Regions from separate parts of the Homo sapiens genome. Here all the other regions are reported to be linked to region 1. Evidence: microRNA targets listed by miRTarBase, many of them from high-throughput screens and not tested one by one. Region 1 holds a microRNA gene; each other region holds the end of a gene's coding sequence.

Region 1 (4,358 bases):
GAGAGAAAACTGAACCTTGTTACATGTGAAATGGAGCCAGATGGTGAGAGAGGAGGGGGATATCACAGGGGAAGAGATGTCCCAAGCAAGGCAGGAGGCTCACGTGAGACAACTCAGGGCAGAATCCTACGCATTCATAGGCTATAAACAAGGAAGTGGAGGGAATAATCACATGGACTCAAGCTTCTCAATGAAAAACAGAAGTCAGTTCATCTGTTGAGAGTGGAATCGTGGAAAGGAGCAGTTGAGGAAAGAGGTAAACATTTAGGCTAAACATGAGGGAGTGGAGTAGAAGAAATGCTGGGTCAGAGTTGAGGGACTGAGGCACTTGGAGGCCCCTGAGTATGTGTATTAATGTGTCCATATGATGATGTGATTTTATTTTTCAGCAACACTGATATTGAAAGGACAGTTGCCTTGGAGATAAGAGAATGAGAAACTAGAATGGTAAGAAGTGATAGACAGAGTGGGATATTAGATATCGAATGTGGTAAAATATTTTAAGGTTATGATGAGGTCAAGAGCCGGGTCCCAGCAATGGGTTTCTGTAATGGGAGTTAAAGGCAAATGGGATTTAAAAGATCAAGGAAAAGAAAGGATAATTTATTTGACCATTAAAAAAAAATGAACATTGAAGCCATCCAGGTACTCCAAACATAGACACTTGAGAAAGCATTTTATTTTGCTATATAATTATTATCATTACAAATGGTAAACTTAAAACTGCTGTGATCAAATTTAATGACAGATGTCCTATATAAAAATGCAGAGGCAAACCACTTAAGAAAAACCATGATATGCATAGGCTTTTACTTGCAAAGTCAGATGAGTAAACATGAGGCAATTAATGGGCCATGACTGTAAGTCTAACCACGCAGTTCATGCACATAGAAAGTGGGTAAAGTTTTAAAGTGGAAATTGAATTGGGAAAATCAATCTACTATATGACTGTCATGAGTGTTCTGATAGTTATATAGTTATGTATATATTATTTTCTTCGTATTTAGCATGTTACATAGCAAGAGGCAGAATTATATGAGCAAATCCTCACCCAGAGAAGCAGAAAGCTAAAATTATCTGGTGTTTCTATCCCACTTTGACCAGAACATCTAACAAAAGTTGTAAAGAACACATATTTGTAAGTGTGTTATTGTCAATGGCATGGGTGCTGAGGTCCTACTTTATGTCTTTTTTTCACTCACACTACAACAGTAGGAAGGTGAGCTAACCTAGATGATGATACTGTACGTTTGATGGACAAAATAGTTTTGCCTTTTCTAAAACATGCTCTGTTTATAGCATACAAAAGATAGAGAAGCATTATTCTTGTTTAAACCAGAGTCTTTTTCATTGAAATCTCATCACATGATATAAATTGAATAAATAAACCAGAAGATGCTGACGAATTGGAAAACTTAAAGAACAATAGTACTATTTTGAACACATCTTTCAAAGATGGAATATCTGTTGATTGTGACAGCAAAAAGCGGGGCCACAGTTGCATTCATTGTTCAGTGAGCTTGTCCACACAGTTCAACCCACCGACAGCAATGAATGTTGATTGTGACCTTTTAAAAAATAATCTCTGCACAGGGAAGAGAAAGTCCTGGTGTGTCCACCTTTGGTTTCCTGTCTTCAGCGAATTCTGAGCACCATGGAGTAGATGATGGTTAGCCATAGGGTACAATCAACGGTCGATGGTTTTGATTTTAATTCCAAACTCACCGACAGCGTTGAATGTTCACTGAAGCAACCTCAAAACTCAGAATTCTACTCACTTTACAGTATCTGTAAGTATCTGAAGGGGATGGGAGACAGAAACAACAGTACCTTTAGTCATATATTTTATGCATTTTTATGCCATTTCAAAAGACTACAAAAGAAGACAAATAAGAAGCATGATTCTTCCAACAAAGAGTTTGGCAAACCTCCACATCACATTGTATGAGAGAAAAGGATCGGTTTCATTAAGCAAAAACATGGCCGATATTGGGCTAGTTCCAGAGATGGAATTATCTCACTGTTAAAGACAGGGACAATTTGTTATTCAAAGTACTTTGTGGTATAAAATCCAAACAATATCTTATAATTTAAATATTGTTACGCTTATAGTAAGCAAGCATTATGTATATAGCTTATACAGAAATTAAACAGAATTACCTTAGATTTCCTCAAATTGGCATTGATGATATCATTTATATTTACATTATATATTTACTATATTTTATTCTAAAATAAGGTTTTAAAATTAGTATAACTTCCTAAGAACAATCTTATTTAGAAAATGCTGAACAAATTATAAGTGAAGAAACCAGCTCAATACATTTTTCTTAGTTTATGGCACAAAGAGTTCATGAATACAGTGAAAGGTAAATACAATCTATGTATGCTACAAAACCGTTCATTTCCTATTATTTTAAATAACATCTAACATCTAACATCTCTTTATGGGTAGATGGGTGAGGGATTCTTTTCATAGTCTTATTTTCTAAGACTGTTTTATCATTAATGCTTATTTTAAAATTATTATGAACTCTACTGAATTTATTTTTAGAGCCATTTTCAATAATTTTCTACCATCAATTAAAACAAAAGTCACCTTGGATGTATCTAAACCAGAATAGAAAGTCATTATTTCACACATTTAAGTTGCATCTAATATGGTTATAGAGTAATTATCTGTAGGAGGGACAACCCACAATAATTTGGAATGCTACTTTGAAGGTGATAATGGTCTATTCAAGTCAAGGCAATTACTCTCGAAATGTTAGTGAAATATGTATCCCAAATTTTTACACATTCTTACATTTCAGTCACTTAGAATTATTTTAAAGCCAATAATTGTTTAACCTTTTAGACAAACTATTTACATGAAAACTTCAACAGATTTTTTTTGAGAGAAACAGGGACTAGAGATCAACTGGAAGTAAATTTTAAAGTGACAAATAGGCACAGAATATGAAACAGTGATGTATCTGAATTTTGCATTGTTTAATTCTTTTGAAAGAAGCAAATTTCTCCCACAGAATAAAACCCTAGAAGAATGCTTTATCAGTAGGCATTTCTGTGTTGCTGCTGGAAAGAATATTATCATGAGACTGAGGATTCATTTGTTTGCATTATCAATTACGACTGAAAGCATATCACTCCTGTTCTGTTGCCTGCCTATTGTGGTATTAGTGTCAGGTCAATATACAACTGTTTTCAATCATGCCTATTCATCTCTTGCTACATCTGCTAACGTTTGTATAATAGGGATGTTGTGATAAAAGACTCCATGCTCTGTATTTTCCCTTAACACAAAATGCATTTGGCCTACCAGTAAGCAAAGCTCTAGGTCAGTTACAAATAATTAAAAGGCATAACTATGTTATCTTTTGTTTTCCAAAATATTCTCCTAGAAGTCTTTGGAAGAATACAATTAACTTAATCCTAAAGTTGTTACATTCTTAGAATAAAAATCTTAACTATAATTGATTTAACATTAAAATTCTTAAAAATCTTATAATGATTCACTTGAAACAATAGAAGTTACATTAAATGTCTTGTTATTTACACATAAAATAGCAATGATAAATAAAGTGATTAATTATTTTTTCTTTCCTTGGGCTAATCATAGTCATAGTTTGTTAAAGATAAAACCTCATATCTTAACAGTTTAAATCCTCCACAATGGAAAATAGGATCTCTGTGTTCTTGCTTCCAATTAATCTAATGTCAGAGAAGATAGTAAACTTTAGGCTCTATATTCTAAATTATTTCGAGCAATACAGAAAAATCGTTCTACTTGTTGGTGCAATTTAGTTTTCTGCTCACTTATATGGTCTTGCAATTACTGTCATGTACCTTCCAATCCTATATCTTTTCCATCTTTATTTTCACAACTTAATCCTTAGTTATAAATCATTTATCTTTAAAATATTAAGATGCAATGGTACTGAGATTTCACATTTTCTGGCAATTTTTTAGAACACATTGTTCATAATTCCAGAATTCCAAGTTGGTGGTAGCAATATGCATTCTTGCATAGTTTTCCTTGAATGAAAAAAAGTCACAAGCAATAGGTCATTAATGCATAAATACTCTCTTATCCCCCTCTTCCTAATTTTGGAGGGCTGTGTGGGTAGGATAAAACCAATCTAATTTGCATCAAAGCCAAATTTATTGTAGCTTTCATTTCTCATCCCTAGGCTTGTGGGAACATTAAGTATTTCAGTTTTGCTTAAGGTTAGTAGGTCATAAATAAACCAAAGCAATTTTTTTGCTTTGTGCAAGAGGGTCACGAAATACATGAAATACCACTTTTAAACAAAGCAAACCCTAACATGAATTGACAGAGGAACATAAAAAAGTAGTGC
Region 2 (4,303 bases), not on the chromosome of region 1:
CCTCCTGTCGTCCCGCTCTGGCTGAGCTCTTGTCTAGGTGGGGAGGATGCACCCAGTGCCCTCCTCCCAAGTGTCCAGCCCTGTGTGAGGCCCTGAGCTGACTGAAGACACAGAGAGGAGGAGCTGGAGTTGGGGTCGGGTTGGGTGGTCTGCATGGCTTCCCACCTTGTCAACGCTGCCCCCATCTGTGTGTCTGACGCTGCAGCAGATGCCGACCTGGCCGAGGGGCCCCCTCCCTGGACACCTGCGCTCCCCTCAAGTGAGGTGACCGTGACCGACATCACCGCCAACTCCATCACCGTCACCTTCCGCGAGGCCCAGGCAGCTGAGGGCTTCTTCCGAGACCGCAGTGGGAAGTTCTGAATCACCGTTTTTACTCTTCTTAAACTGTTTTCTTTTGGGCTTGGGGTGGGACTTCCAGAGATAGGGATGGGTTGGGGGCGGGGTAATTATTTTATTTAAAAAAATACCGAGCAGCAAAAGGGGAGAAGATCCCACTACTCTCCCACCACCTGCCCTTTCTCTGAGGGACGTTTACCACGAGGCCTCAGGCTGGGGATGGAGAGAGTTGCTCTGGGAGTTGGGGTACCACCCCCAGGGCAGGATGGGGACAGGATCACCTGCCCGGGACACCACCATTATCATTCTCCTCTAGTGACGCAGCAGCTGGTTCTGGGAGTTAAAGGAGCATTGGAAGGCCCAAACCCTCTCCCTTGAGTGGCCACCCCAGCCTGGTTGGCTGGTTTTCCCCTTTTCTCTTGTTTCAATTGGGTCTTTACCTTGAACTCTCCTCTCTGGCTTTGCGGTGGGCTGTGGAGGCTGGTTTTGACCAAAAGTGAGTGGGGCGGGAGGAAGGGGCAGGAGGAAGGGTTGAGGTTACTTGGGGCGAGTCCCTTCCCCTTCAGAGAGGCTTCTATCCTTCCCAGGGAGGAGGCGCCGCTGAGACCCTTCTGCTGAGAGCTCTGCCCTCCCCTCATCACCTGGCCTGTGCAGAAACGCTCATGCACACCTGGCTGCACAGGTGTGCACGCATTACCCTTCGCGTGTACGTTCCCATGTGCCCCGTGAAAGCATGTGTGGCTGCAGACGTGTCCACATGGGCCTTGCGAACCTGGGTTAGAAACCCTGGCCAGGCGAACGTGGGGTGATTCACAGCACAAAAGACCTCACCACCACACCTGCACTCACCCCACCTTGCATGCACCTTGCTACCTGCTTGCGGCTTTCAGTGGAGGGCAGGGGTCTGGCACAGGTGCGATGGCACCCCATGCTCCAGGCATACAGATGTGGTTTCTCGGCTGCACCGGGCCAGGCTGCGGGTGTGCAGGCGTCTGCTAAGTTGTGTGATGTATCAGCACAGGCTTTGAGACGTCTGGACCCTGTCCTTCCTCCCGTGAGGGGTTCTTGTTCTTTCTGACTCAGGTGACTTTTCAGCCCTTCCAATTCCCCTCTTTTTCTGCCCTCCCCTCCAACTCAGCCAACCCAGGTGTGGGCAGTCAGGGAGGGAGGGAGTGTCCCACCACGTTCTCAGGGCAGCCCTTGACTCCTAAGCCCCTTCCTCCTTCCATTCTGCATCCCCTCCCCATCCAACCTAAATGCCACAGCTGGGGCTGAGCTGTATTCCTGTGGAGGGACCTCTGCCGTGCCTCTCTGAGGTCAGGCTGTGCTGTGTGATGGGCAGGCTTTGCCCCAGCCCACCCCTGGCAAGGTGCACTTGTTTTCTGGTTTGTACAAGGTGTCCTGGGGGCCCGTGGCTTCCCTGCCAGTGAGGAGTGACTTCTCCCTCTCTTCCAGTCCTGTAGGGGAGACAAAACCAGATTGGGGGGCCCAAGGGGAGCATGGAAAAGGCCGGCTCCCCTGTCTTTCCTTGGCTGTCAGAGTCAGGGTAACACACACCAAGAGTGGAGTGCGGCCAGCAAGTTTGAGACCTGCCCGCCCTCCTCGCAGCTCTGCTCTGTGTCCTCAGGAAGTCACAGAGTCTACTGAGGCAAGGAGAGGGTGATTCTTTCCCCAAATCCCTTCTTCCCTGGTTCCCAAACCAAAGACAGCCTGCAGCCCTTTCTGCATGGGGTGCTCTGTTGACAGGCTTCCCAGATCCCTGAGTCTCTCTTTCCTTCCTCCTCGATCTTTAGTTGTCCACGGTCAATTCAGTGCTTCCATTGGGGGACAGTCCCCTCCGGGATGACCTGATTCACCTCCAGCCCAGGGAATGGAATCTAGAGGAATACGTGGGGTGGGTCTGGACAAGGAGCGGCAGGAATCACCACCCATCTCCAGCTGTGGAGCCCTGTGGAGGGGAAGGGGAAGCTTGGGGTTCAGAGGGGACTCTTCCAGGAGAGGGGTGCCCAGCGGAGGTAAAGATGATAGAGGGTTGTGGGGGGTCTCTAGTTGAATGTTTTGGCCCATGACTTTGGAACATGGCTGGCAGCTTCCAGCAGAAGTCACGCTCCCCATCCCCCAGGGGACATAGGACCTTTTTCCTGCTTCCTGGTCACTTTCAAAGAACTATTTGCGCAATCTGTGGGTCTGTGGATTCACGGGGCTTTCTGTGTGGGTGCTGCAGTTGCTTTTGTCTGCAGCAGCAGGACACATCTTTCCTCTTACTCAGCCCTTTATGGCCCATGGGGAACTCCGTGGCTCAGGGAGAGCTGAACTCCAGGGGTGTGACCTGGGACGGGTGGGCCTGAGGTGCCCAGCTCAGGGCAGCCAGGTGGCTCATGGGCTGTAGTGAGCCAGCTCCCTGGGGGAAAAGGCTGTGGGCCGTTAGGACCATCCTCCAGGACAGGTGACCTCTATGAGGTCACCTACGGCTGTGGCCGTGCAGGCCTCCTTCCAGCCCAGAGTGGCCCAGTAGAGCAAGGCAGACAGTGACCTCCACCCCCGCAGCCCTCTTAAAAGGCCAGTACTCTTGGGGGTGGGGGGAGGGTTTAGAAAGCATTTGCCCATCTGCCTTTCTTTCCCCCAGCCCCCACCCGCTTTGAATGTAGAGACCCGTGGGCACTTTTCCTTTTGTGGTGGGGGGTGCGGAGGAGGTACCCCCACCCCTGGCACAGCCGCCTGGAATGCAGGACTGTCACTGCTGTTCGGGTGATGACCTCGTTGCCAAGCTCCTCCTGTCCCCTTGTTCTGGGGGCAGGCGCTGTGCTTCTGTGAGGTGGTTTAGCTTTTGCTTTCGAAGTGGCCAGCTGCGGCCACCAGGTCTCAGCACAAGAGCGCTTCCTTTGCACAGAATGAGCTTCGAGCTTTGTTCAGACTAAATGAATGTATCTGGGAGGGGTCGGGGGCACGAGTTGATTCCAAGCACATGCCTTTGCTGAGTGTGTGTGTGCTGGGAGAGTCAGAGTGGATGTAGAGCGCGGTTTTATTTTTGTACTGACATTGGTAAGAGACTGTATAGCATCTATTTATTTAGATGATTTATCTGGTAAATGAGGCAAAAAAATTATTAAAAATACATTAAAGATGATTTAAAAAAAAGAAAATTCCTGGGCATTTGATTATTCCTTCTGGTGGTTGTCAAGTGCATCCGTCCACCAACAGACTTTGTGCGAGCAACAAGGCTGTTTATTTCACTTGGGTGCAAGTGGGCTGAGTCCAAAAAGAGTCAGCCAAGGGAGATAGGGGTGGGGCAGTTTTATAGGACTGGGGTAAGCAGTGGAAAGTTACAGTGAAAGGTGGTTAGCTATTGTCAGCAGGGGAGGGGGTCACAAGGTGCCTGTTGGGGAGATCATAATACTCATTGTCCGGAAGAAGGTCACCAGGTCGATCAGTTGGGGCAGGGCAGGAACAAGCCATAATGGACCTGCAGGCCATCTGGATGTATATGTGCAGGTCACAGGGGTTACAATGGCTGAGCTGCAGCTCAGAGGCCAGACAGTGGTGTCCCCACTGTGCTGAAGAAAGAGCTTCAGCCCCTGGCAATGCCTGGGGTTTAGGTCCCAGGTCTGCTGGTCACCGGCCATAATCTCGGACAAGTCTTTCCCTTCGCTGAGACCCCAGATGGACAGAGAATTCACTGAGGTGACGGGAACAGGAAACTGCGGGTGTCTCTGGGTGAGGCCATCACCATGGTCCGTAGTGTGTCATCAGAGGCCTGGAAGTGCTTCTGGCACCTTTTATCTGCTTCTCCCCAAGAGTCCTTTATTCCAGAACCTTGGAGGGGTGAGCATCGCAGGTCTCTGCAACGGCAGATTCCGGATCGCAGGACTGTCATGGGGCTAACGCTCACCTACTGTGTGTTCAGCCAAGCTTAGCACACACATCTGAACGTTGAGACAGGTGGTCAGAGCCAAGGGCAAGTCCT
Region 3 (4,000 bases), not on the chromosome of region 1:
TTTATCCATGAAATATCACCATTCTCACATTAAGGACAAGAAGTCTGAGACCTACGGTAATAGCTTCAATCATGAAGAGCGAAAGCTGTAATAACCATGTAGCTTTGTCTAAGTGTGCAGAGATCTGAAAGGCCACCAGGTTGGCTCTTTAACATAAAGCAGCAGAGAGTTTGCCTAAAGGAATTAACAGAAATAGGGAAGTAACTTTTATTTGCAGATCCTAGGAAGGTAGATTACAAACAACAGCAAATCTTAGTGTCTCTAAATAACACTCTAGGCCATTTGAAATATAAAAAGGTAATTATTTTCCTTCAGAAAATATCTCCAAAAGCTCACTTTTTTTGAGACGGAGTCTCGCTCTGTCACCCAGGCTGGAGCGTAGTGGCACAATCTCAGCTCACTGCAACCTCTGCCTCCCGGGTTCAAGCTGTCCTCCCACCTCAGCCTCCTGAGTAGCTGGAACTACCGGCGTGTGCCTCTTGTCCAGCTAAATTGTTGTATTTTTAGTAGAGACAGGGTTTCACCATGTTGGCCAGGCAGGTCTCTCCAACTCCTGACCTCAAGTGACCCACTTGCTTCAGTCTCCCAAAGTGCTGGGATTATAGGCGTGAGCCACCATGCCCAGCCACAATTTTATTTAAACCTCCTGCAGAATTTGGATAGGAGAATAAAAGCTTTACCAATAGGAAAATACTTTTCATGAAATGGTTTCAAGGATTGTGAACTTGGCAGGTAAAGTATAACAGGTACTGAAAATACTTTTAGCCAAGGAAATCTATTGATGCAAATTAAATGTATTTATAAGCCCAAGGCCTGGGGTAGAAACATCCTAAGAATATCACAAATGTACAGTTTACTGCCTGAATTATTGGAAGCAAAATAGCTGTATTATGTAGATCTTTCTGAATAGCAGAAGCTTGTCAAAGATTTCTGCTTGTCACAGAAAAGCAGCTTTTGGAATTCATTATGTTCTATAAGAATGTATGGTTTTCAGGCCAGGCGTGGTGGCTCATGTCTATAATCCCAGCACTTTGGGAGGCCGAGGCAGGCGGATCACCTGGGATCGGGAGTTCGAGACCAGCCTGACCAACATGGAGAAACCCTGTCTCTACTAAAAATACAAAATTAGCCAGGCGTGGTGGCGCATGCCTGTAATCCCAGTTACTTGGGAGGCTGAGGCAGGAGAATTGCTTGAACCCGGGAGGCAGAGGTTGTGGTGAGCCGAGATGGCATCATTGCACTCCAGACTGGGCAACAACAGTGAAACTCCATCTCAAAAAAAAAAAAAAAGAAGTATGTTTTTCAAAAATTACTTCTGAAGGACTAAAGCTCTGTAGTTGATGAAACTATAAAATGTCTATGTATTTGTATGGTGATAGAAACTATACAACACTTTATACCGTTAAATACACATATGAAATTAACATCTTCCTGGTTTCAGATTTCCATAAAATTTATCCTTTTTGTACAATTTGGCAAGGCTAACAGCTATAGAAAACATATTAACCAACCAACCATTGCTTCATTAGAAACTGCACCAAATCCAATGTCAAAAACATTACTTTATTTTTCTAGGATGAAATGTCCTATTACGTACAAAAGAATTGCTGTTTAGAATTTGCCACAATTTGTTAAAAACATAGCAATCTATTGCCTACAGGTAGGAAAGTTCTTGCTGCAACAAATTTTAAATGATTAAGCCCATATATATTTATATATATGAATAAATAGTACAGAAATACTGTGACGTGATGAGATGCAGAATAATTTTATAACTCATTAAAATGTAGAATTCTTGCATCAGCACAGTGCATACAATATGTAACATTTTTTAAAAAAGTAAAAGGACAAAATAACCCATATTTAACTACTTCCATCTTAATACTTTAAGCAAAAATTTTTTCATGTTTTCATATTGAGCGATTAGTCTTTAGTTTGTAAGCATAAGTTTAAGTGACATCTTTATGTACAAAAAGGAATGGGCTTCATTAGATAAAATTAACCCAGAATAACCTGTACACCTGAGCCTGTAATAAGAAAGAATCGGGAACTGTAGCAACATCTTTCTTTTAAGAAACTGAGGTCTGGGAAAGGTTTTGCATAGCAGGGAAACATTAAAAGGAAAGAAACTTTGAAAAACAATAATTAGATAAATTCCAGAAGTTGGTAGGACAAAGCTAATATGAGTTAGTGCAAAATCTAGTAAAAATTTTTGCAAAGCTGCATAATCCAACTATGGCAGATTTTATAGAAGCTATTACCACAATGCAGTGATACAACGTGTAAGAACACTGAAAGGAAAAACATGCAAAATACATCTTCCTCTGTGGTTTCCATTTTCTCGCTACTGTTTACACTACTTTTCCTTACGTGGAAGAAACAAACAAACCAACAAACAGAAAACAAACCCAATCAACAAATAACACAGAGGATGAGGTCATCTAAAAAATGCCCTTCATAAAATATAAGTAGCTGTGTGTAATTGGTAATTTGCCTGGTATCACAGAATGTACAGATGAAGGCAATGTGTATCTTGTCGCATTACCGTTCTCGTTAGTATGATCAACTGATGCAACAGGATTAGCACCCCTGAAGATTTTTCTCTGACGTGATGACAATGGACTGGGAATGATAAAACGAGGGGCCACTGCTGTCCTGGAGAAATCCAGGCACAATTAGACTCTTCTGCCTTTCATGACCTTGCAGGCCTCCCTCCCCACAAAGGCTTACAGATAATCATTAGCGCACATTCAAAGACACCTCTGTCTGTGGGAGAAAAATTATCTCCATTTATTTTGTTTCATATACATCCATAGTTGAATTTTAATACAAAAGAAAAAAATTAGAATCTGACAAATGTTTACAAACAAGATACCTTCAAATAGATTTTACTCATTTTAGCCTGGTGCAGAGTAATTGACAAATTGTACTGTTATATTCAAGGCAACAGAGTCTGTAGTCCAGGACCACTTAGCCCAACCTTTATGCAAGCTTAATTTTAATCTACCATGAACAATAAACTCATTGTTGATTCCCAGTTGTGTGTGTGTGCACATGTGTACATAGCAGCTCCTTTCATAGAAAGAAAAGACATCTAGAGGTCGTCTTGTACTTTTACCTACAGGAATCATGATAAGATACAGATGATTATATGTAACCGGGGCTGGATTTTATAAGAAAAAATAATTAGCTGACAAATGAGGGCAGCAATAAAAAAGCGTCTTTTTTGCAACAATAAATAAATACAGTCAAAAGTTTTCTGTGAGACTCTAAACCAGCTTCTTCACTGAAGAGCAGACGTGGCATTTCCATGGAGTTACACTTGACCCCATAGTATCTTTTTTTCTTGCTTTCTTTTTCTTTTTTTTTCAATAAACAAAGTTTTCTCGCTTCTGCCACAATAGTAAAACCATCTGATCTTGACAAGATAATGGTGTCGTTGACTTTGCTTTTTTCTTGTCCGTTGGACAAAATTGGCCAAGAATATAATTGGACTGTTATGACCAATAAAAACGAAGTTTAGGTCAAGTCTTGTCAGGATAGCCTGACTAAAAACATCTGGCTCCTTAATTTAAAATAGTTCAGACAACCAGATTCTTGCTGTGTTTTATGTTAGGTTAACACGCTGAACTTTAAGAAGCTGTAGACTGCAGTTTGTTGTTATGAGACCTACAGAATATAGAAAAAAGGGAACAATTAAGCACCCTTCATTTTTGAAAACAATGATGCTTTATGCGGATGCCAAGGTCAGTCAGTCTGGGAGAAGCAGCCATGTTCTTTCATTCACCCTTGGCAAGCGAATAGAAAAGAACGATTAAGAAAATTTTAACCTATAATATTAAAACTTTTCACTGTACACTAAACATAATAGCTCACTGGAAAAAGCCAATATTTAAATATATATATATATATATATATATATATATATATATATATTTGTCTAATAAAGATTACAACATTTTCAGCCAACTGGACAAATAGAGGCATTTACAGAAGCATT

Evidence for each region. Region 1 holds the annotated microRNA hsa-miR-181b-5p (AACAUUCAUUGCUGUCGGUGGGU, at 1,537-1,559, opposite strand). A microRNA usually pairs through its seed, bases 2 to 8, with sites in the 3' UTR of a target mRNA and lowers its output. Matches are read on the target gene's strand: a 7mer-m8 pairs with bases 2 to 8, a 7mer-A1 pairs with bases 2 to 7 and ends in A, and an 8mer does both.
Region 2: the mRNA of CBX7 is a reported target of hsa-miR-181b-5p. Seed matches in the 3' UTR shown: 7mer-m8 at 2,390-2,396, 8mer at 2,979-2,986 and 8mer at 3,259-3,266.
Region 3: miRTarBase lists BPTF as a target of hsa-miR-181b-5p. Seed matches in the 3' UTR shown: 7mer-m8 at 2,747-2,753.

What each region holds. Positions count from the first base shown.
Region 1 is chr1:198,857,389-198,861,746 of GRCh38, forward strand. It overlaps MIR181B1 (microRNA 181b-1), which reads right to left and starts at 1,594; the gene lies at 1,485-1,594. The region is part of intron 2 of MIR181A1HG (MIR181A1 host gene); the gene reads right to left. It overlaps MIR181A1 (microRNA 181a-1), which reads right to left and starts at 1,765; the gene lies at 1,656-1,765.
Region 2 is chr22:39,129,951-39,134,253 of GRCh38, reverse strand. CBX7 (chromobox 7) reads left to right here. Exons shown (of 6, transcript NM_175709.5): 6 at 206-3,482. The coding sequence ends at 363. Among named protein-coding and RNA genes, the nearest start is that of CBX7, 21 kb to the left of the region's middle. RefSeq lists enhancers at 1-627, 2,267-2,828.
Region 3 is chr17:67,981,921-67,985,920 of GRCh38, reverse strand. It overlaps BPTF (bromodomain PHD finger transcription factor), which reads right to left. Exons shown (of 28, transcript NM_182641.4): 28 at 1,543-3,669. The coding sequence ends at 3,633. Among named protein-coding and RNA genes, the nearest start is that of C17orf58, 13 kb to the left of the region's middle.